Homo sapiens: one gene and its partners. The protein of the gene in region 6 purifies or fractionates together with the protein of the main gene of each other region. This does not show direct contact. Each region holds a gene or a part of one and is shown on either strand. Other genes may lie near its edges. The genes, in order: SULT2B1, KLK9, CP, GC, ITIH4, P2RX6 and SDR16C5.

Region 1 (3,500 bases), on a different chromosome or scaffold from region 6:
CAGGTGATCCGCCCGCCTCAGCCTCCCAAAGTGTTGGGATTACAGGCATAAGCCACCACACCTGACCTAATTTTTGTATTTTTAGTAGAGACAGGGTTTCGCCATGTTGGTCAGGCTGATCTCAAAACTCCTGATCTCAAGTGATCCTCCTGCCTTGGCCTCCCAAAGTTCTGGGATTGCAGGCGTGAGCAATGAGCCCGGCTAATTATTGTGTTTTTAGTAGACATGGGGTTTTTGCCATGTTGACCAGGCTGGTCTTGAACTCCCGACCTCAGGTGATCCACCTGCCTCAGCCTCCCAAAGTGCTGTGATTACAGGCATGAGCCACTGCACCCAGCCAAGGCCCATTTTGGAGAAGAGGGGAGTGGGGCTCTGGGATGTAGAGCATCTCACCCACATCTGCCTGATGGGGAACACACGTTAGGTTCGAGGTCCCTGGCTCTGTCCCTTGAAGCCTGACAGTCTCACCGCAGGCCCTGCCCATCCGAGTCCCACTGTAGCTGGGCTGCCAGTGTTCCGTTCTCACTGTCCAGTTTGGCTTGTTCCCTGAATGTCGCATGCTCCACTACACCGTGGAACCGCACCCTGCACGACGCCTGTCGCCTGGGGCTCTTCACTTTTTTTCTCTCCTCCTTTCTCTCAAACACCTCCTCTCTCTCTCCCTTCCAGCATACCTTTATTATTTATTTATTTTATCTTAATTAATTTATTTATTTTATCTATCTATTTATTTATTTATTTTGAGACAGTGTTTCACTCTTGTTGCCCAGGCTGGAGTGCAATGGCACGATCTCGGCTCACTGCAACCTCTGCCTCCCGGGTTCAAGCGAGTCTCCTGCCTCAGCCTCGCAGAGTAGCTGGGATTACAGGCATGTGCCACCACGACCAGCTACTCTTCTATTTTTAGTAGGACGGGGTTTCTCCATGTTGGTCAGGCTGGTCTGGAACTCCCCACCTCAGGTGATCCGCCTGTCTCGGCCTCCCAAAATGCTGGGATTACAGGCATGAGCCACCACACCGGGCCCGAATTTATTTTTTTGAGACAAGATCTTGCTCTGTCTCCCAGGCTGGAGTGCAGTGGTGCGATCTCAGCCCCACAGCAACCTCCGTCTCCTGGGTTCAAACAATCCTCCTGCCTCAGCCTCCCGAGTAGCTGGGATTACGGGCGCCCACCACCACACCTGGCTAATTTTTATTTTTTTTATTTTTGAGACGGAGTTTTGCTCTTGTTGCCCAGGCTGGAGTGCAATGGCAGGATCTTAGCTCACTGCAGCCTCTGCCTCCCGGGTTCAAATGATAGGCCCACCTCGGCCTCCCAAAGTGCTGGGATTACAGATGTGAGCCACCACGGCTGTCCTAATTTCTGTATATTTACTAGAGATGGGGTTTCACCATGTTGGCCAGGCTGGTCTCGAACTCCTGACCTCAAGGGATCCACACGTCTCGGCTTCCCAAAGTGCTGGGATTATAGGCATGAGCCACCACGCCCAGCCTCATTGACAGTTTTTGAAATTGACTATATGTGGAAATGATATTTCAGATAGATTAGATATGTGATTAAAATTAATTTCACTTGTTTCTTTTGTTTTTTTAAAAAGGTGGCTACGAGAAAATGTTTTCCTATGGGCTCACGGTATATATCTATGGAGGGTGGCCAGGGTCATGGAAACCATAAGGGTGACAAGTCCCCCCGAGAAGAAATGGCCACTGAGGGGCAGCCTCTGACTGCAGTTCCAAGCCCCTGTTGGATTCCTTTCTCTGGCATGAGGGTTATGAGTGGGGCCTCAGTTTTCCCATCTGTAAAATGGGCATTGTAACACTGGGACCACACAGGGCTGTTGTGAAGACTCAGTGAGCTCATCCCCACACAGCCTTCAGCACAGGGCCTGGCTCAGGGCAGATGCTCAGGAAGCTCATCATTATTATCATTCCTCACCCATCCCCTCCCTTGCTAGCATTCGAGTTTCTGGCTCAGCAGCGGTCTCAGAACTGGGGAAGGAGGAAAGAGAGAAACAGCACAAATGCTGAGTCAGCTGCGAGCCCAGGTCAGGCCCTTCCCCGGTCATTGCCCGTTTCACAGACGCTCAACCCTGAGGGCAGTCCTTTCTACCAGGAGGGTCCCAGCTCCTGAGCCATAGGGGCGGCATTCGAACCCAGGACTGCCTTCCTGTGGGCATTCTTCTTTTCTTTTTAATTTTTTTTTTTTTTTTTTAAAGAGAGATGAGGGTTTGCTATGTTGCCCAGGCTGGTCTTGAACTCCTGGCCTCAAGCAATCCTCCTGCCTTGCCCTCCCAAAGTGTTGGGATTACAGGCGTGAGCTGTGGCACCTGGCCCCTGCAGGCTTTCTTGCCTGCGGTGTCACGGTCCCCACTTTCCCAGATCCTTGGGGCTCTGGTCCCCACGTAAGTAACTGGCCACACCTCTCTTAGGGCCTCCACTCCAGGCCTCCGGGCAAGGCGAGGGTCTCCCTTCTCAGCCTGGCATTTATTCCATGTCATGGGTGACCCACTGGGTCCCACAGTTCCTCCTCCAGACCCTCTGGGTGGCAAACTGGGCTGCTTAGTTCTTTCCAAATGGGTCCTGAACTCAGCTGGCCAGCATGGCGAAACCCTGTCTTTATCAAAAATACAAAAATTAGCTAGGCATGGTGGCACATGCCTGTAATCCCAGCTACTTGGGAAGCTGAGGCAGGAGAATCGCTTGAACCCAGGAGGCGGAGGTTGCAGTGAGCTAAAATCACGCCACTGCTCTCCAGCCTGGGCGACAGAGCAAGACTCTGTCTCCAAAACAAAACAAAACAAAACAAAACAAAACAAAACAAAAAACAAAACCAAATGGGTCCTGAACTCTGAACATCACCACTTCCAACCTTTCCTCTGCCAGTCCGTACACAGGCCCACCAGGCACAACTGCCTCCCCCCACCCCAAAGAGCGAGTGGAAAGGAAAACGCATCCTGTCCCTCACTCTTCAAGGCTGAGTCCCTCGTCAGGGGCTGGGTGGAGAAGGAGGGAACCGTGAGCATCTTTTTCCACTTCTCCCCAAGTCCCCGCATCCGCTAGTGCTGGCCCCGAAGCCCCTCTCCCTAGTCTGCCTGCCCAAATCTCACCCAGCGGGGAGGCAATGCCTTATTATTTCTTAATTGTTTGAAACCCCTTGATCAGCCCGTCTCAGAAAAAGCAGCTTCAGGCCAGTCGCGGTGGCTCACACCTGTAATCCCAGCACTTTGGGAGGACGAGGCGGGTGGATCATCCGAGGTCAGGAGTTTGAGACAAGCCTGACCTATATGGTGAAACCCTGTCTCAACTAAAAATACAAAAATTTAGCCAGGCGTGGTGGCGCACGCCTGTAGTCCCAGCTACTCAGGAGGCTGAGGCAGGAGAATCGCTTGAACCCCGGAGGCGGCTGTTGCAGTCAGCCGAGATGGTGCCACTGCACTCCAGCCTGGGCAACCAGAGTGAAACTCTGTCTCAAAAAAAAAAAAAAAAAAAAAAGAAAAGAA
Region 2 (2,292 bases), on a different chromosome or scaffold from region 6:
TGCACTCCAGCCTGGGAGACAGAGCAAGACTCCGTCTCAAAAAAAAAAAAAAAAAAAAAAAAAAAAAAAAAAAAAAGAAAGGAAGGAAGAGAAACAGAAAGATGCATGCAGAGAGCCAAGAGATAAGAGGAGATGCATATATAACTCCCTAGCACTTTGGGAGGCTGAGGCGGGCGGATCACAAGGTCAAGAGATTGAGACCATCCTGGCCAACATGGTGAAACTCCGTCTCTACTGAAAATACAAAAAATCAGCTGGGCATGCTGTTGCACACCTGTAGTCCCAGCTACTCGGGAGGCTGAGGCAGGAGGATCACTTAAAACCCAGGAGGTGGAGGTTGCAGTGAGCCGAGATCACACCACTGCACTCCAGCCTGGGCAACAAGAGCAAGACTCAGTCTCTTAAAAAAAAAAAAAAAAGAAATAGAAAAAGACCCAGACCTCAAGGGGTGGAATGAAGGCAGTGAGATAAAAGGAAAGAGATTTGCAGGAAGATGGTCACTGATGGAGACAGAGACATAGACAGAGATACCAGATACAGTGTAGTCAGTATAGATGTGGATATGGATATATAATACACATGTGCATCTATATAAGACATGGGTGCAGGCTCCGATGCATCAAGGGATATGATAAACAGAATTGGTAAACAGAAGTCGGGGACGGGGGCTGTGCAGGGAGACAGGAGCCATTTGGGTCCATTGGAGTGAATCAGAGAACTTATCTTGGCTGAAGGGGGCAGCCTCCATTGACTCAGCCCAATGCTTGCTATTTTGGGAATGTGAGTTCTTCAAACTTTTTCAGGTGAATCCAGAAACCTGGCTTTTGTATAAAACTTTCCAAGTTTTAGATATTGGCAGCAACAAATTCAGACTGTTTTTCCAATCCACTGACCCAATTTGGCTAATGGGTCAGTGATCCGTGACTCTGAGAGACATGGTCTTATTCCCATTCTAAGATGAACGCATTTCACATTTAAACATCTCTGGGCCAGGTACAGTGGCTCACACTTGTAATCTCAGCACTTTGGGAGGCCAGGAGTTTGAGACTAGCCTGGACAACATAGCAAGACCTCATCTTTGCTAAAAATAATAAAAATTTTTAGCATAAGGCTTAAGTTAAAGGAGGTCCCATCATGGAGCAATGCATGATGGGAAATTCCCACCCAGCATCTTTTACCAGAATCAGTGCTTTATTCATGGAGGGAAGAAAATTGGAACAGTATGGATGGTCACTTTTCAGAGGCAATGGAGAGAGGATTCCTGCATCAGGTGGATTCCAGGATACTATTAGAATGCCCAGAATCTAAGATTCTAGAATTCTCAGATTCTGACACACTAGTATCCATGATTCTAGAATCTAGAGGCTCAACGTTTAGAGTTTTATGAATCCAAGATTCTAACATTCCAGATTCCCCTGGATCAAAAAACTCCAGGATTCTAACATTATCTGAATTAAATCTAAGATATGACTAGATTTAAAAAAGACTAGAATTTTGGCTGGGTGCAGTGGCTCATGCCTGTTTTCCCAGCACTTTGGGAGTCCAAGGCGGGCAGATCACCAGGTCAGGAATTTGAGACCAGCCTGGCCAATATGGTGAAACCTCTGTCTCTACTAAAAATACAAAAAAAAAGATAATAATAATAATAATAATAAATAATAAAAAAATGACCCCGGTGTGGGATGTGGTGGTGCATATCTGTAATCCCAGCTACTTGGGAGGTTGAGGCGAGAGGATCACTTGAGCCCAGGAGTTCAAAGCTGCAATGAGCCGTGATCACACCGCTGCACTCCAGCCTGAGCAACAAAGCGAGACCCTGTCTCAAAAACAAACAAACAAACAAACAAACAAACACTCTGAAATTAGAATGTGTCTTCCAGAAAATGGTGTTATATAATCAATGGGATCTAATGGGATCTTTCCTCCTCCTCCTTTTTTTCTTCTCCTCCTCCTCCTTCTTCCACTTCTTCGCAGTTCATGAAATAATGGCACATCTTAAAAATGCTAGCATCTTATATTTGGTTAAATATATCGATTGGCAGATAGATAGACTGACAGAGAGAGAGAGGAGAGAGAAAAGGAGAAGACAGAGATGAAAAGGCAGAGACAGAGGGGTGAGGGAGCAAGTTTCAGAGAGAGTTCTGGGCCAGGTCATACCCTTGGGGCTGGACACGGCCCCCCAGCCTGAGATGAGACACTGCATGCCTGGGGAGACACAGGTCTGGCTGAGGTTGAGGGGCTGCACAGCAGGACTCAGACGTGCCTGCCTGGGCAGGCGGATCAGCATGATGT
Region 3 (3,500 bases), on a different chromosome or scaffold from region 6:
ACCAAATCAAACCTGCTCAGGCTAGAATTTTGAGTATCTTTTTATAACAACTATTTTTGTTAGTACACAACAGAGACAGGATTAAAGTATGGAAAGAGGACCTTCCACCCAGATATAAGTAAAAGTTGGAAACAAAATCTGTACTTTGTTAACTAGTTTATTTTTCTACTTTGGTAGTATCGTTATTTTTGTGCTCTCGGTTTCTGAGTACAGGTTATTTTGAAGAAGTTAAACACAAACAAATAAACGAAAATATCTACTTATTGGTCTAGTTGTTGTTAAGGGACTCTGTTTCTCATGCAAATTATGAGAAATAGATAATCTTACTAAGCTCATTATTTTGTGTCTGAGAATTAAGAAAAAGTCTAAACTGTAAAAAAAGCATTTCTAGAAAAGTAAAGTGAACTGAAATGTAGAAACGAATGATGCAGACTAAGGGGCCCAGTGAGGGCAACATAGTATGTAAAACGAATACCTTTCAGAACTCGTGGTTTGAACTATTTTCTTAAATATAGTTAGATGCTTTAAAATATAATATGGTTTTAAGCATTTAGTTTAATAATTTGGAGCTGCCTCAAATAATTTTTAGAATGAGTCTAGTGGATAAATAAATATATTAATGTCACATACATATGCATTAAACCATAATTGATGCTTTATCCTTACCAGTTGGGGAACAAGTTTGGTGTATCTGGCTTTACCTGGCTTAGAGTTTTTATTCTGACTTACTTAGCTGAATATCAAATTGCACATCCAATATGCTTTGTTATAAGGACCACAGACTAGACACACAGTACTTATTTATGTGAGGGAATAAGCTTAGCAGAATTAATGGATCAAGGGAAAAAAAAGTAAAGTTAACATGTCTGCTGTAATCTTACAATACATTCTGTTACTCTCCTGGAAGTCTTCGTTGTCTTTGTCAACTTTCTCTGGTTCTGAGCAGTAGGTTTTAATGTTGTCTTCTAGGTACCAGCTGAAATTTTCATCCACCACAGAAAACATCACCACAAATTCTCGGTCAATATGTTTTTCTTTTTCTTTATCTAGAGAATCTGGAGTTAAAGTTACTATTTTAGCAAGACTAAACTTTTAGCATGTATTTTGATTTATGTTTTCAGGTGATTTATAGTTTTTAAAAATGTTAGTATTTATTTTTTCGAATAAATCACAAGTCTGGACCAGTCACTCCTGTTTTACAGACAGAAACACTCAGGGAATTTTTATGATCAGTATCTGGTGCTTGGAAGACACTCCTGTGTCTGGATGTCCACTGACCACATAACTATTAAATGCTTTTTGGCAAATGGGAAGATTGGAATTCAAAGTTGTGCGTCTATTTTCTGGTGCATATAGCCACAAACAGAGACAAGTCTTTACAGGTAACGATTGTTCAAGTTAGAATTGTATTTCAGGCTCTTGAGCTCCGTTGTCTTTTTCATGATGTTAGAAATAAATACTATGATATTATGTTTACCAATATAGTATGAGTAACTACAGATCTATCACCGTGGAGTGCCCTTTTGGTAGTCACATTTGGTAAAGTCATATGTCTCTTCAGCACCACTGTTGGAAGTTAGATACAGCAAACTGAACCCTGAGAGAATATATTTCTTTCACATTACCTTCATTGGCATTTTCCCCGTAGGAATGCTTGTTCTATTTATCCCTTCTTCTCCTAGTCCTGCCTGGCTCTTCCCTTCCTTTTTTTCTACTTACCACCTCTCTACCTTACCTGCTCAATCTCAGCACAGAAGACTTGATTTCTTTTTAAAAGACAAACTGCCCTGCCCCTGTCTTTTGGTCATATAGCATGTGCAATAAGGAGAAGATGTACCTTTTTTACAGATTATTAAAGGTCCGATGAGTCCTGAGGCAATATCTTTTGGAGCATCAATGTGGGAATGGTAAATCCTAGTCACACAATTGCCATCTCCTTCCCCAGGACTTTGTTCTTCAGTGGCAAGCAACATGTATGTATACTGCTCTCCTGGATATACTTTGTCATCTGCTCTTTGAAAATCTGTGGTGTTATCAGGGTAGATGGCCCCTAGGAAGCAACATGCAATGAAGGTGCAAAGTGAATGTGTTTGAACTTAAATGAGAGAATAGATAGTCCATTAATTCATTCAGCAAACATTTATTAAACATCTACTATGTGATCCTTGGGGATGTGTTATCCTATTTGGACACAGGAAAATGAAAGGCTAATGGCTAGGGTGTGTAGAAGCTTCACAGACATTTTTATTATTTTTTTATATTTGATTGGGTTTTCAGAGAGCATAATGACTTTTTGTTTGCAATGTAAAGAACTCGGGTCATGGTATGGGAGTCTGAGCAAAAAGGCTACCCTCTTCTAAATTCAAAACTTCTTATATGATCTCAGATTTTTGCCCACGAAGTAACCATAAAATTAAAAACATTTCTACTCTCAATTTTGGAAATTTCCAAACACACACAAAGGTTGAGAGAAGAAAATGCTGAACCTCTGTGTACCCATCAAACCAGCTTTAACAATGATCGACTCAAGGCCAACCTTGTTTCATCTGTACCCCCACACACTCTTATCCCCAGTATCATCAAATTATTTTAAAGCACGTCTCAGACATCATATTCCATTCATAAATACTTGAGTATGTATCTCTAAAAGATAGGAACCCTTTTTTTCTTCTAACAAAACCACAGTTCCATTACCATACCTTTAAAATGAATGGTAATTCCCTAGTAAGCCATGAAATCATTAAAAAGAAATAGGATGGCAGTCAGCCTTTTATGCTATGAATGTAATTTATCCCTAAACAACAACAAAAACAAAAAAAGTCAACACATTCACTTTCTAAACCAATATCTCTTTTAATAAGACAACTAATAATGAATCAAATCTAATTTTAAATTAATTTCCCTATTCGATCATTATAATTTCAATGAACTGTAGCATGACTTCAGCATTTTTGCTTATGATAGCAGCTGATAGTTATTGAGGTATTACTATGTATTCTTATTATCTCTATTTTATAGATGAGGAAACTGAAGCTGAAAGAACTTAAGTAATTTGTCCAAGGTCACTCAAACAGTGAAAGGCAAGGCTGGGGCTCAGACCTTTGTCTATTAATTTCAAAGCCCTTGCTTTTCATCACTACAAAATACCACCTTTTTTACCATCATTGTTAAGGACTAAGAATGAGATCACAGGCACCAAACCTTATCTTTGTTTTTCAGGTACTATTTTCAAGGCTTCCAAGTCCTACATTCAAATGACTTTTTCAGTTAATTGTGTCTCATATGTGACTACAGTCATCCAGGCATATGTACCATTTGACTGACATGAGACTACTTATGCCACCTTAGCTGGGGCAGAGTTTATATAAAGTTAGGATGGGAGGTAACAACAGCACAGTATGTTTACATGTAGGAACTTCAAAGATAAGGCAATCCACATCTTGAGTCCTTCTTTCTCTTCCCTCTGGATTTTGCCTCTTCTAGGCTCTGATGCACTTTGT
Region 4 (3,500 bases), on a different chromosome or scaffold from region 6:
TTTGTTATTTATATTTTTTAAAATCTAGTATGCAATTGTCAAATAAAAGTATTTTCATTTTAAAACCAATTATTACCTAACATTTGCAGCAGAACTGATAATATCAAAATAACAAATTTACTTTCGTGTAGTAAAATTTGAAGACTGAAATGGTTATTCTAAGACTGTGCTCTTGCTATTGTATTTTTTAATAGATAAAAAAATCACAGTTATTTCCATATAAAAATATTTTCACTCATAAATGGGAGTCGAACAGTGAGAACACATGGACACAGGGAGGGGAACATCACACACTGGGGCCTGTCGGGGGTTGAGGGCTAGGGGAGGAATAGCATTAGGAGAAACACCTACTGTAGATGGTGGGTTGATGGGTGCAGCAAACCACCATGGAACATGTATACCTATGTAACAAACCTGCAGGTTCTGCACATGTATTCCAGAACTTAAAGTTTATATATATATAAAAAAAAACAAAATAAAACCCACATAGGAATTCAGCTGCATCAGCAGATATGAATGTGAAAGACATGTATAACTACATAACACTCCTTGTATATTCCAATAAATCTTTCTAAATCAGCTTTCAAAAAAAAGTTATGTAAGTTTCACTTCTCTAAGATGAAAAACACAATTTGTTAAATGTAAACATATTTAAACAATTCATATGTGATTTCATTTATAGAGAATAAAAATGACTGGTAACTAATTATTTTGCCTATTTTAAATGTAAAGATACAATTATTTGTTAATATTATTTTCTTTAGGTAGTGTTAAACCTCAAGTTACTATTTTACCATGACACCCAGGTTAGCAAACCCAAATGCTCATAGGATCTAGGAACCACACAACTTACATTTGATCCAAGGGAAGAAAGCATTAAATGCTCAGTGGTGAAAACTGAGGGTTTAGTCCAAAAGGAGGAGTGACAATTCAGCTCCAGTTCATCATTGCCATGTGAAAATTTGGCCCTTATTACCACACATTCCTGTGTTTCCAGAGAAGCTAGAAATCTAGATTTTTTTGTGGAATCTCCAGGTTTTAAAATGTTGACAAGTGAAATGAGACTTTAAAGACAGACTTAAAGAAACTTTGTTGGCCCAAACCATGAGGGCCAAAGAAAACATCCATATGAGGATGTATTTTATCATGATTTAAGATAGAGGCTTTGGATACAGACCACCTGGATTTGAATTCCTGCTACCCTAGGTGATAGTGAGACCGCTGGCAAGTTGCTTATCCTCTCTGTTCTTCCTCAGTTTTCTCATTTGTAAAATGAAGATTGTATCCTCAGGAAACAGAATATTGCTGTCAGTTATTATTATTATTATTATTATTATTATTATTGGCTAAATCCAGTTCATGATCATTTTTATACATATGAGTGTATATATTTATGTACATACCTATTTATACACACACACAAAAACACACACAGACACATCAGCTATCTCCTGGGAGCATGGCATCATATGAAAGAAAACTCTAAAGCCACCAATCTTTAAGGAACCTGAGTCTGATGGTAGACATACATATACAAAAACCCAATTTTGTAATATTACACAATAATTTTTTGAACACCTACTAAATGCCAAGTAATGTTCTATTACTGGGAATTACAGGAAATAACAAAAGTTCTTAATTTCACAAGGCTTGCATTCTATATTTGTTACAATAAGCAAATGAACAACCAGTGATAAGGTAAGGTACTAGGTGCTAAGAAGAAAAAATAAATCCAAATAAGGGGATAGAAGATAATGGACTGGTAGGTGTTATTTGTGGTAGGTTGGCTAGGGAAGCCCCCTCTATAAATGGACTTGGAGTAGATGCCTGAAGAAGGTGAGGAAGGGAGCTATGAGAATATCTGGACAATCAATGTTCTAGGAATAGAGAAGAACTAATGCAAAGCCCTGGGGTGCAAAGGACTTAGAGTGTGAGATAATGTGGAGGCCAGTGTGGTCAGATCAGAATGAATGAGAAAAATAGGAGAGAGAGAGAAGAAGCAATGGGTAGAATGAAGAAGTTAGGTGACCAAAAATACTGGGGAAGGGCATCATCAATTCCTTTTAGAGGTTTCTTCATTTTCTCCTGTCCTAAATAGATTAAGCTGGTGGTGTTTTACAGAGTGTGCACACTTCTCCTTATATTACATATTGGTGACTGCATATGTGGCATTGCACCTGATATCAGTAAGATGAAACATTGCTATTGATTTTCAGGGAGGTTAACATTGCTCTCAGTGATGAGAGCTGTATGACTTCAGCCCTTGCGTAGGGCTGTTTTGACAGGGAAGGAAGAGAAGGAAAAGTGTAGCTCACCCACCAACCCAAAGGGAACTTTCTTCTTGCAGTTTTATATCATGTTTAATAAAAAAAAATGCTGTGAATGAAATGCTTAAAGCAAAAAGGAAAATGTTCATAATAAAAACCTCTTTTTGCCAACAGCTCTTATCAACTGCAGTGGTTTATTTCCTGTTGGCATGATTACCTTAATAATTTTGTAGCTGTGTCACGACCCTCTGATCTTTGACAAACCTGACAAAAACAAGAAATGGAGAAAGGATTCCCTATTTAATAAATGGTGCTGGGAAAACTGGCTAGCCATATGTAGAAAGCTGAAACTGGATCTCTTCCTTACACCTTATACAAAAATTAATTCAAGATGGATTAAAGGCTTAAATGTTAGACCTAAAACCATAAAAACCCTAGAAGAAAACCTAGGCAATACCATTCAGGACATAGGTGTGGACAAGGACTTCATGTCTAAAACACCAAAAGCAAAGGCAACAAAAGCCAAAATTGACAAATGGGATCTAATTAAACTAAAAAGCTTCTGCACAGCAAAAGAAACTACCATCAGAGTGAACAGCAACCTACAGAATGGGAGAAACTTTTTGCAATGTACCCATCTGACAAAGGGCTAATATCCAGCATCTACAAAGAACTTAAACAAATTTATAAGAAAAAAACAAACAACCCCATCAAAAAGTGGGCAAAGGATATGAACAGACACTTCTCAAAAGAAGACATTTATGCAGCCAAAAAACACATGAAAAAAATGCTCATCATCACTGGTCATCAGAGGAATGCAAATCAAAACCACAATGAGATACCATCTCACACCAGTTAGAATGGCAATCATTAAAAAGTCAGGAAACAACAGGTGCTGGAGAGGATGTGGAGACACAGGAACACTTCTACACTGTTGGTGGGACTGTAAACTAGTTCAACCATTGCGGAAGACAGTGTGACTATTCCTCAAGGATCTAGAACTGGAAATACCATTTGACTCAGCCATCTTATTACTGGGTATATACCCAAAGGATTTTAAATCATGCTGCTATAAAGACACATGCACATGTATGTTTATTGTGGCACTATTCACAATAGCAAAGACTTGGAACCAACCCAAATGTCCATCAATGATAGACCGGATTTAAAAAATGTGGCACATATAGACCATGGAATACTATGCAGCCATAAAAAAGGATGAGTTCATGTCTT
Region 5 (3,500 bases), on a different chromosome or scaffold from region 6:
TCATCAGGAGGGGTGCCCCTTTCTCAGCACTCCTTCACACTGGGGGCTGGCTCCCACAATCTCTCCACTTGTCCCTTGGTGTCTAAGGCTTTGGAGGGGCCCCTAAATCCTCGGCGACGGCCACCCTCAGTTGAGGCCTTTGAGAATTAACTTGTCTCCAGTCAATAAGCCTTCAGAACGCCCCATGGAGCGCCTGGCCCTGAGCTAGATGCCGCGGCCAAGGGTAAGATGGAGAATTGGTGCTCCCTGCCCTCAGGAAAGACATTCCTAGCCTGAGTGAGGAAGTGGGTGACACATGCATCTGAGGAATGAGAAAGCCATGGATGTCCCTTGGCTTTGAGCGGGGCTGGGCGGTGCGGGGGTGAGCACTGCTGAGTGGAGTGTGTCCCCATGTCTGGTCCAGGATTGAAGGGGCAGGGCCCAGCCAGCACCCCTGTCTCTTCCTGCCATTCCCCTCATCCACACCTTCTAGGTCTCATCTTTTGGGGCTCTGTACTCTGCAGGCACTAACTCCTCCATCATCTGGAACATCCTCATGCTGGTCTCTGTGCACCCGCCATGGCCCTGCCATCCCTGTGTGACCCCAGGCAGCTCCCCTGACCCTTGCCCCACCCTGGCTCCTCCTCTAGGCTCACCTCCACATGGCTGCCATGCTTATCTGTGCCTTGGCCACCCACACCTGCACACAAGGTGCCCAGTGGAAGGTCCCCGGGGTGTCTGTGTGAGTGTGTGCCCATGCCAGCACTGGGAGGCAGGACCATGCTATGATCTGGGAGGGGCCTGTGTGGGGCCAGCCTGCACGCGCTGTGTGTGTCTCTGTAGGCAGGTGGTGGGTGTGTGCCAGTGGTGTCTGGGTCTCTCTGGGTGTGCCTCTCTCACCTTGCTCAGGGTCTGAGAGCAGGTTCACTGGCCCCTGGCGGTGTCTGGGGTCCACACAGAGCCGCTCCACACTCTGCCCAGGCAGTGGCAGGATGGCAGAGGGAGCCTGTATGGGGGCTGGGACAGCCGGGGCACGGCTCCTGGAGCAGGAAGGGCAGGCTGGGGGCAAGGATGTGGAAAGGGGCCAAGGGGGCTGGGAACTTACCTGGGGTTTGGGTTGTCATGGTTGTTTCTAAAAGAAGAAAAAGTCTGGGTTTAGGCAGCCCCTTCCTGAGGAGTGGGAGGTTGAGGGAGGGAGCAGTGACTAGGTGTGGCTGGGTTCCCTCACTACTTCAACATCGAGACATGTGACAGGTCACTCCCCTCCCAGGATCCCCCTGTTAGGACAGGGCCTCTGGCCTTGGGGGCACCTTCGATTTTCATATTCATGACACGAGACACAGCTGGATCAGGATTTGAGGTGGCTGGTGGTGCTGAAGCAGGCACTAGGGCAGGAACATCCGGAAACAGAAAGGGAGCAGGAAGGCAGTCAGGAGGCGGGCAACCAGCAGCGCTGCCACCAAGCTCCAGCCCCCCATCCTGCCACACATACACTCCACCTAGAATGGCCTTTGTCACAGGAGATTTTCAAACAGAAGAGCATGCTGTCAGGGATAGGTCCAGCCTGGCTGTGCAGCTGCATTCGAGTGCAGATTTGGGGATCAGAAAACAGTTCAAGGGACCTCTGTTGGCTTTCTGAACGGAGGAAGCCCTCCCTTCCTAGAAGGTTTCCTCATGAGTCAGCCTCTAGAGTATAGTGGATCCTACTCAGTGAAAGTAAAGGACAGGTGAAGTCCTGCCTTGGGGAGGGGAGGCCTGATGTCCATACACTGGGTAGTGGGGAGAGGGGCCTTCAGAGAGAGGAAGCTGGCAAGGACTGCTCCAAAGAGCGCTGTGATGTGCATGCTTGGCCAGTCCGTGCCCCTCTTAGGGCCTAGGGTCCCCTCTGAACAAGGAGTGTGGGAGAGGCTGCTCTGTCATGGCCTGTGGTCTGACAACCTAGGGGCAGCTAAAGGACCCGGGTGAGCTCGCATCTGAGGAGATGAGACGCTAAGGATGGGGCAGGGGGCAGCTGCAAAGAGCTGGGAAGGCGAGGACAGCCTCCTTAGGAAATGCACTCCCACCCCAGCCCCAGTAAATGATCCCAGGTTGAACTGACCCACAATTACTTCACATCGTGCCCTCAGCAGCCGTCCCTGGCCTGGCCCTGTGGTGCGTGCTTTACCCCACCCCCCTCTATGGGGCAGGCTCAAGGACCACCGTGGGAAACCGAGGCCCTCGCAGGGCCGGAAGGCAGCTTACAGATGGCCAGACGGCGGAAGGGGTGGTAAGCAGCATGGTCAGGAACATCAGGAGGTCCTGGGAGTCCAAGTTGCCTGGAGCTGAGAACCCCAGGTCTGAAATTCATCCGGGAGCCAGCAGCTCCAGCTTTGGAGAAATCGACAGATGCAGTCTTCTCTCAGGTGGGGTGTGGGTCTTCACAGCCAGGGCTTGAGATCCACCCAGGAGTGGGTGCGGAGAGGGCAGCTATGTCCCCTCTCCCCACACCCGGCCAACTTGGGGAGCCTCTCCCCCAACAGCTGGGAGATGAACAATAATGGACCTCCCTCAAGCTCCCCCCCAGGGATGTCATGCCTCCCCCTGGCAGAAACCCTCAAACTACCTTGTCTATTCCATCCTCTTCTTGGAGAAAAGGAAGCCTCTGTGTGGTCAAGTCCTGATCAGATACAACTGAACTGAGGCCCGAGGGCTGTCACCAGCCAGAGGAGCTGGGCAAGGCACTACCCTCCACAGCCAGGACTGAGCCCAATCTGTCAATCTCCCCTCCCCCCACCTCCTACTTTGTCACCTGGTTTTGGTATTTTTGCTCCCTGGAGATAATATTTGAAGAAAGTGGAACCTGGAAATCAGTGGGACCTGGGTTTGCATCTTGCACCCACCTTCCTGTGGCCCCACTTGGATGGGGACTGTATTCTTAGTGCTGGGGACAGGGCCTGAGGCACAGCCAATATTTGAATGCACAGGCGACTAAATGCACCAGCATGCTGGGTCAGATTACACTGCCTCCTGGCAGCAGGGATGGGCTGGAGAGGCCTGGGTGGACCTGGGCCCTGGCCAGCAACCTCACAGGGCTGGTGCCCTGGACCCTGTGTTAGCAGACCACCACCCAGCACAGCCTTTGAGGATGTTCGCTGCTTACCTGAGTGGACATTCCTGTTTCTACTTTCTGGATAAAACAAAGAGAGAGAGAGAGACAGACAGACAGAGACACAGACAGACACCGTCAGGGTGGTTTTCATCAATTTGAAGCGCTTGTGTTTAATCTTGCTACCCAATCCTGGACTATATCGTAGGTGCAATGAATTTGGGGAGACAGGAGACCCGGCTTCACTTTCCTCATCAGTGAATAGGCTGAATCTCCCAGGGGGAGTCTGTTGGGGGCACGGTTGGGGTCTTGGTCAGGATGCAGGGAAGATCGGGGAGAACGCTGGGTCCAAACTCTGCTACCTGGGAGGCTGAGATCTCAACCCCACACCCACCGCCTTCCATGGGCTTCTCAGCAACTTGAGACTGCTCTTGGT
Region 6 (3,344 bases):
GGCATGGGGTCAGGCTCCCCACGTCTGCTAGGTGGCAGATCCAGGGAGCAGAGCTTGGGCCCCAAGGAGGCTGCCTAGAAAGGGCAGCAGGGTTCTGAGCATGGCATGCACCTGAGGCCTGCCTGGCACAGGCACCCCCACGGGGACACATGCATCCCTGCAGGCACTACCCTGGGGTGCATGCCTGTGCGCAGACTGAGGCGACAGCTGTTTCTGAGCTCGGGCCCAGGCTGCAGCTCTCTTGCTGTCTTTGCCCACTCTTCAAGGGCTTTGAGGTGAAAAGAGTGTGGCCCTCATGCTCCTACATGGGTGCACAAGTGCCCAGGCCTGTTCCAGTTACCTTCTAGCCCACCTGGTAGCTGCAGGGCCTCAGTCTTCAGGGGTAGGGTCCCCAAGTCCACCCTGCACCACCCCACTGGTCTCTTCATGGCTGTGCCATGTCTACCATAGATGCCCCCCAACTTTCCAGTCATGCCTGTAAGGACTACACAGGAAGAGGGTGGCTTTGCTGGCTTTACTCCGTGACTTTGTCCAGCCATGACATCAGCTTCCTCTGGGCCCCAAGGAGAATCAGGTGCACGTGCCCCTCCTTGGATACCCAGGCCTCAGGGGCCCTGCTCTCCCACCTTCGCCCTTCAGAGCCCACCTCCCCATGGACATGGCTCTGGAGATTGAGAGGCAGCAGGGACCCCAGGCATTTTACTGAGGCTCCAGGTGGCAGGTGATTCTAGATGTCAGCCCAGTCTCAGCCCCACCCCTGGCCCTCCACAGCTTGCCCTGATCACCAGGTACCCACAGTGGAAAGCAGCCCCTTGCCTCCCTGGGGTGGACACTTAGAATTCCCTGCCCCGCCCTGGGACCAAGAGGAGAATTCCAGCTGCAAAACCTGGCCAGCCTGAGGGAGATCTCGGTGGTGTTGTTTGGAACCATTCCTTCCAGCCACTCCATCCAGCCTGGGATCAGAGCCAGGGCCTCCCTCGAGCAGCTGCCCAGACAGCTTCCTAGGTATGACTTGGACTGAAGTGAATTTCAGATGTACAGCCTCCCACAGCCTCCCACCCCCAGGGCTCTCAGGAAGCCTGGAGGAAAGATTCCAAGGGGTTGGGCTGGGGGGTTACCGAGGAGGGATATAGAAGGTCCTGAAGAACCCAATGATCACCAACTTAGCCCTGCCGCCCTCTGCTCTCTCTCCCAGACCTCCATGGCAAAAGGGCTACCACTGGAAAGCAGCCGGTCCTCATAAACTAAGCAGGTGTGGGCCCAAGACACATGCTCCGCCCTTGCCTGGGGGATAGGGAGGTGGATTATCTGCCTACTCCACCCCATTCCCTAGATTAGGACTCTCCTGGGGCATCACAGCACCAGAGAAGCTGAAACAATCCCCCTCCCCCATCACTCCTCTTTCTACCTTGCCTTTTTGGCTCCAGCTGCACAGCCCCATGTAGGACCGATGGGAGGGTGGGGTCTCTACCTATGATGGGGGTGCAGATGGGGGAGGAGGGCCAGGACCCAGGCAGCAGGAGGGTCTGTGCTGACAGCTGGTAAGCATACCTCTGCTAGGAACACTGGGGACAGAGCACTGGGAGAGAGACCTCCAGGCCCAGACGCAGCAGGAGCCCCTGCCACATGCAGTCGGAGCCCTGCAATACAGGTGCCTGCTGGGCTCTCCCAGTCTCCACGGGTCAGGTTCTGTCGCCGTCTCAAAACACAGCCGACTTCTATGGCTCCCTGAGGCAGCACCCTACCAAGGTGGGAGTCAGGGGAGGGACTGTCTGCTGGGGTTCAAGGGTGGAATTCTACCCCCAATCCTCCATGCTGGGGCCTCATCCTTGAGATCCCCAGGCAGGGCCCCGCCCTTCCCAGCCCCCAACTCTCAACCAGCAGGGAACGGCTACAGGCTCCCGGAATGGGTTGGCAAGTGGGTGTCAGAACTTGGACAGGGCCATCCTGGTGTCTGTGTCTGACTCCCAGCAGCAGTGGCCGTGGGTGCAGGTGCTGAGCTCCGTCTGAGGCACTCGGCCAGTCGGGCTTGGGATGCAAGGGCCAGCTCCCTCCACACAGAGTTGGCGGTTGCTTTCGGGGCCTTGGCCTGCAGATGAGGACAGCAGGTCAGGGATCCAGCCAACATCTTCCTAAGTGTGGCAGAACCCAGGGTCCAAGCAGAGCGACCTCAGCTCACCTCCTCATACTTTGTCCTCCAGTAGAAATGGGCTTCTCTATCCACATACAGCAGTAGCAGGTCACAGAAAAAGGTGACCTGGGAGAGGCAGGGCCAACCCATGTTCCAGCCCCCGAGCCTGCTCTCCTGCCACCTCCCCAGCCTGCACCCCGAGACTCAATGTGCAGGCACCGGAGGCTCCAGCATGCATTGGACACACCCTGGTCAGCAGCACTCACTGCAGCCTGCAGGTGCCCACAGTGCTCGCACTCACCACGCCCAGCCAAGCTGCCCCGGTGCCCAGTGTGACGGCCGTGGGGATGAGCCCGAACTTCCCTGCCTGAGAGAGATCTGAGCTGAACCTCTCAGCCCACGACTGTCAGCCTCATGCCTCCTCCAGCCCTGTCTGCCTGCCCCATCCCATCCCCGGCCTGACCCCTACCTGTGCCTACCTGCCCGGTGACGAGGATGTCGAAGCGGATTCCATAGAGCTTGAGCAGGGTGCGGGCCTCCACACCCGGTTGCTCCCACCAGTGAGTGGCTGTCCTGTGGGCAGGAAAGAAGGCTCTGGTGACCTGCTTTGCCCACCCCCAGGTGGGGCTGGCCCTGCCAGACCTCTGTCCAACTTGTCAATTGACTCTATAAACCCCCAGCCCAAGCCTGAGTCCTGGGTCTCAGCCCTATGTAATTGGTGAGAAAACAGAAAAAGCAAACGAAGACCTGTCCCTCAGAAGTTCCCTGCCTGCTGAGAGGACGGGGGACAGAGGAGTCCCTAAACAGACCCAGCAGCGGGGGATGTGAAGGGGCAGGCTCAGGGCTGAGGGATTCCAGAGATGGGAACTCACTCTTCCCTGGGAACTGGGGTAGACTTCCTGGAGGGGACATGAGGCTGGGCCTGAAGGAACATGCACACAGGTGGTTTGCCAGCACAGAGGTCAGGGGAACAGGATGTGGGTGGGAGCCAGCCCCACGTGGTTTCGAAGGGCTGGGGAGGTTGGGGAAGCCAGATCAGACGGGGTGCAGTGAGCTATGTTGAGGGGCATCATCCCCAGGCCTGGTGGTCGTGTGTGCCTGCCTGCATGACGAGGTGACGCTCGGTGGCAGAAGGATCCAATAGATCTGCTTAGAAGACTCAAAGACATGATAATAAATGCAATTTATGAAACTTGAGGCCAGGCACAGTGGC
Region 7 (3,500 bases), on a different chromosome or scaffold from region 6:
GGAGGAGGAAGGAGGAGGAGGAAGGAGGAGGAGGAGGAAGGAGGAGGAGGAGGAAGGAGGAGGAGGAGGAAGGAGGAGGAGGAGGAAGGAGGAGGAGGAGGAAGGAGGAGGAGGAGGAAGGAGGAGGAGGAGGAAGGAGGAGGAGGAAGGAGGAGGAGGAGGAAGGAGGAAGAGGAAGAAGAAGAAAAGAAGAAAAGAGAGAGACAGACACCATGAAGGCACCTGGGGAAAAACAGAGAGGTAGGAAAAGAACACAAAGCCAGGCCAAGCGCAGTGGCTCACACCTGTAATCCAAGCACTTTGGGAGGCTGAGGCGGGCGGATCACAAGGTCAAGAGATGGAGACCAGCCTGGCCAACATGGCAAAACCCTGTCTCTACTAAAAGTACAAAAATTAGCTGGGTGTGGTGGCGTGCGCCCATAGTCCCAGATACCTGGGAGGCTGAGGTAGGAGAATTGCTTGAACCCGGGAGGTGGAGGTTGCAGTGAGCCGAGATCGCGCCACTGCACTCCAGCCTGGCGGCAAAGTGATACTCTATCTCAAAAAAAAAAAAAAGAAAAAGAACACAAAGCCATGGGAGTGGAGACTTCCAGGGACCATGGTCTTTATCTTCATTCTGACTATATATGAGTATAAGCAAGCACCAAGGAGAGGGACATTTGGGACAAGATAAATCATTTGCAGTAGTTCTTGTAGGAACATGGTAGCCACTAAATTCTGAATCTTTCCATTTTTCTCCTGAAAACTTTACAAAACACCAAGAATAGCACCAGCACCATTACATTTTTGGTGGAAATAGGGGACAGAAAATCTACAAATTCCAAATTACATTTGAAGGCTGCTAAAGAAGACTTGGGTGGAAAGGTGTGAGGAGAATGGAGGAGGAGCTCAGAAATCTCCAGCAAAGACTCCCAAGAGAGAGCCTTGCCCAGGAATGACGAGCTACGAGCAGGGCTGGAACCAAACAGGTCAAAAGTCCTGTGATCCCAGCACTGTGGGAGGCCAAGGCAGGCGGAACACTTGAGGCCAGGAGTTCAAGACCAGCTTGGCCAATGTGGTGAAACCCTGTCTCTACTAAAAACACAAAAAATTAGTTGGGTGTGGTGGCGCGCACCTGTAATCCCAGCTACTCAGGTGGCTGAGGCACGAGAATCGCTTGAATCCGGGAGGTTGGAGGTTGCAGTGAGCTGAGATCACACCACTGAACTCCAGCCTGGGAGACAGAATGAGACTCTGTCTCAAAAAATTAAAATAAAATGATAAAGTAAAATAAAAATACAACTTTTAATAAAAGCTGGGAGAGGCAGCAAGAGGGTGCATGCATAGTGTGGGGAGGCCTGAGATGGCTGGTCTCAGCAAAGGCCAGAAACATGCAACTTCTGGAATTGAGTGGGTGGCTTTAGAAGTCAGGACTGTGCTTTTAGCGCTGGTAGCAGGTGGTAACCTGGGTTACCAGTGGAACCTCTAATTTCTCTGGTTGGGTACTAACTAAGGTGACTATAGGTTTTGGTTTGCCCATAACAGACCTGATTAACACTTGCTCATTAATAATGCTGAATTTCACTTCCAAAAGTGTCCCAGCTTAGGCAAATTACAAAGCTACCCTGGTCCTGTCTAAGTGCAGTTGCTCGCTATGTAGCCTGGAGCAAATCTTTTAAGTTCTATGATCCCTTATCTCACCGAGCTGTTTTAAGGAAAATATGTGAGCCACCTGGAGTATTTCCTAACATTTGCAGCTAATCAATACATGGTAGCAGGACCATGAGGACAGTTCTGTCCTTGTAGAATTCCCTAAGCAGAGGTCCTGGGGGCTGTAGATTAAGTGGCATCAGAAAAGGACAACTGTGTAGAACAGGACAAGTCCAAAACTGAGAAGTCTCTGCTTTACTTAGAGGCTAATAATATTGTAAAAGAGCAAGAGGAAAATACTTCCAAATGCCAGAATAATTTTACATTTATGATGAGAAGAAACAATTATTACCCATAAATGTGCTTTGAAATTCACATCAAATGACTTTTCCATAAGCTCATCTGGACAGTCAAGGAACTTTTTGCCTGTTACGATTCCGGCATTGTTGATTAGGATGGAAACATCGCCGACTTCTTTTTTAACCTGAATTGAATAAGAGCAACACCACCAATGTAGTAATTCCTTACATGGGCTAGGTTTTATTTTCCCAGAGTTTTATGTTTTTTTTATCCTGGTTAATTCATACTGAGTTTATGCACTCTAAAAATACAGCTTGGGGCCAGGCGCAGTGGCTCACACCTGTAATCCCAGCACTCTGGCAGGCCGAGGCAGGGGGGTGACTTGAGGACAGGAGTTTGAGACCAGCCTGGCCAACATGGCAAAATCCTGTCTCTATTAAAATTACAAAAATTAGCCAGGCATGGTGATGCGTGCCTCTAGCCCCAGCTACTCGGGAGGCTGAGGCAGGAGAATTGCTTAAACCAGGGAGGTGGAGGTTGTAGTGAGCCAAGATCACACCACTGCACTCCAGCCTGGGTGACAGAGTGAGACTGCATCTAAAAAAATAAATAAAGAAATAAATACAGGTTGGTTTATTTCCATTGCTGAGTCTACAATGCACCACACACCAAGTTTTTTTTTTTTTTTTTGAGATGGAGTCTTGCTCTGTCGACCAGGCTGGAGTGCAGTGGCACGATCTTGGCTCACTGCAAGCTCCGCCTCCTGGGTTCCCACCATTCTCCCGCCTCAGCCTCCCAAGTAGCTAGGACTACAGGTGCCCACCACCACACCCGGCTAATTTTTTGTATTTTTAGTAGAGACAGGTTTTCACCGTGTTAGCCAGGATGGTCTCGATCTCCTGACCTCATGATCCACCCGTCTTGGCCTCCCAAAGTGTTGGGATTACAGGCATGAGCCACTGCGCCTGACCTCCAGAGATCAAGTTTTGATGTGCTTTTCCCATTTTTCTCTTCTTAAAATGAGTCCATGTTCAAAATGCTACTTTCTGTTTACAGTTAGAGCTGTTCTTCTACTCAGTGGTTAGTAACTTTGTTCTGTGCTCTGTATGTGGCATTTCATTTTAATCAATATGATGGGACATAAGAATAGCTTCATTATAGCCAAATGTGACATAGATCAAGACCTCACACACGGAGAAGGGGCTGGATTAGGGAATAAATAGAGGAAAAGAGAAAGTACAGTCATAAATCACTTAACAATGGAGATACATTCTGAGAAGTGCATTGTTAGGTGACTTGGTTGCTATGTGAAGATCACAGAGTGTACTTAATAAACCTAGATGTGTGGCTACTACACATCTTAGGCCATATGGTAGAGCCTATTGCTCCTAGGCTACCCACCTGTACAGTGTGTTACTATACTGAACACTGTAGGCAACTGTTAACACATTGGTTAAGTATTTGTGTATCTAATCATAGAACATTGGGACAGTAAAAATACTGTAATAATCTGTCCCATAATGTGGGACCACCATTTTGTATATGGTCCATCACTGACCAAAATGTCATTA

What was found.
Region 1: the proteins of P2RX6 (region 6) and SULT2B1 purify together in Homo sapiens (affinity purification with mass spectrometry; one large-scale study listed by BioGRID and IntAct). This does not show direct contact.
Region 2: the proteins of P2RX6 (region 6) and KLK9 purify together in Homo sapiens (affinity purification with mass spectrometry; one large-scale study listed by BioGRID and IntAct). This does not show direct contact.
Region 3: the proteins of P2RX6 (region 6) and CP purify together in Homo sapiens (affinity purification with mass spectrometry; one large-scale study listed by BioGRID and IntAct). This does not show direct contact.
Region 4: the proteins of P2RX6 (region 6) and GC purify together in Homo sapiens (affinity purification with mass spectrometry; one large-scale study listed by BioGRID and IntAct). This does not show direct contact.
Region 5: the proteins of P2RX6 (region 6) and ITIH4 purify together in Homo sapiens (affinity purification with mass spectrometry; one large-scale study listed by BioGRID and IntAct). This does not show direct contact.
Region 7: the proteins of P2RX6 (region 6) and SDR16C5 purify together in Homo sapiens (affinity purification with mass spectrometry; one large-scale study listed by BioGRID and IntAct). This does not show direct contact.

The regions. Positions count from the first base shown.
Region 1 is NC_000019.10:48,558,672-48,562,171, reverse strand, and holds part of SULT2B1 (sulfotransferase 2B1), read right to left. Parts: intron 1-3,500. UniProt on the Homo sapiens protein: Sulfotransferase that utilizes 3'-phospho-5'-adenylyl sulfate (PAPS) as sulfonate donor to catalyze the sulfate conjugation. Responsible for the sulfation of cholesterol.
Region 2 is NC_000019.10:51,004,301-51,006,592, forward strand, and holds part of KLK9 (kallikrein-9 precursor), read right to left. Parts: coding exon 2,158-2,292; intron 1-2,157.
Region 3 is NC_000003.12:149,208,330-149,211,829, forward strand, and holds part of CP (ceruloplasmin precursor), read right to left. Parts: intron 2,051-3,500; coding exon 1,838-2,050; intron 1,056-1,837; coding exon 882-1,055; intron 1-881. UniProt on the Homo sapiens protein: Multifunctional blue, copper-binding (6-7 atoms per molecule) glycoprotein. It has ferroxidase activity oxidizing Fe(2+) to Fe(3+) without releasing radical oxygen species. It is involved in iron transport across the cell membrane.
Region 4 is NC_000004.12:71,777,580-71,781,079, forward strand, and holds part of GC (vitamin D-binding protein isoform 1 precursor), read right to left. Parts: intron 1-3,500. UniProt on the Homo sapiens protein: Involved in vitamin D transport and storage, scavenging of extracellular G-actin, enhancement of the chemotactic activity of C5 alpha for neutrophils in inflammation and macrophage activation.
Region 5 is NC_000003.12:52,817,173-52,820,672, forward strand, and holds part of ITIH4 (inter-alpha-trypsin inhibitor heavy chain H4 isoform 1 precursor), read right to left. Parts: coding exon 3,459-3,500; intron 3,146-3,458; coding exon 3,119-3,145; intron 2,819-3,118; coding exon 2,768-2,818; intron 2,621-2,767; coding exon 2,582-2,620; intron 2,347-2,581; coding exon 2,221-2,346; intron 1,365-2,220; coding exon 1,290-1,364; intron 1,112-1,289; coding exon 1,085-1,111; intron 997-1,084; coding exon 880-996; intron 1-879. UniProt on the Homo sapiens protein: Type II acute-phase protein (APP) involved in inflammatory responses to trauma. May also play a role in liver development or regeneration.
Region 6 is NC_000022.11:21,025,165-21,028,508, reverse strand, and holds the end of P2RX6 (P2X purinoceptor 6), read right to left. Parts: intron 2,705-3,344; coding exon 2,611-2,704; coding exon of another isoform or gene 2,601-2,610; intron 2,499-2,600; coding exon 2,433-2,498; coding exon of another isoform or gene 2,258-2,432; coding exon 2,180-2,257; intron 2,090-2,179; coding exon 1,892-2,089; coding exon of another isoform or gene 1,783-1,891; 3' UTR 501-1,782; downstream 1-500. UniProt on the Homo sapiens protein: May act as a modulatory subunit rather than a functional channel. Unlike other P2XRs members, P2RX6 does not seem to form functional homotrimers.
Region 7 is NC_000008.11:56,310,176-56,313,675, forward strand, and holds part of SDR16C5 (epidermal retinol dehydrogenase 2), read right to left. Parts: intron 2,114-3,500; coding exon 1,982-2,113; intron 1-1,981. UniProt on the Homo sapiens protein: Oxidoreductase with strong preference for NAD. Active in both the oxidative and reductive directions. Oxidizes all-trans-retinol in all-trans-retinaldehyde.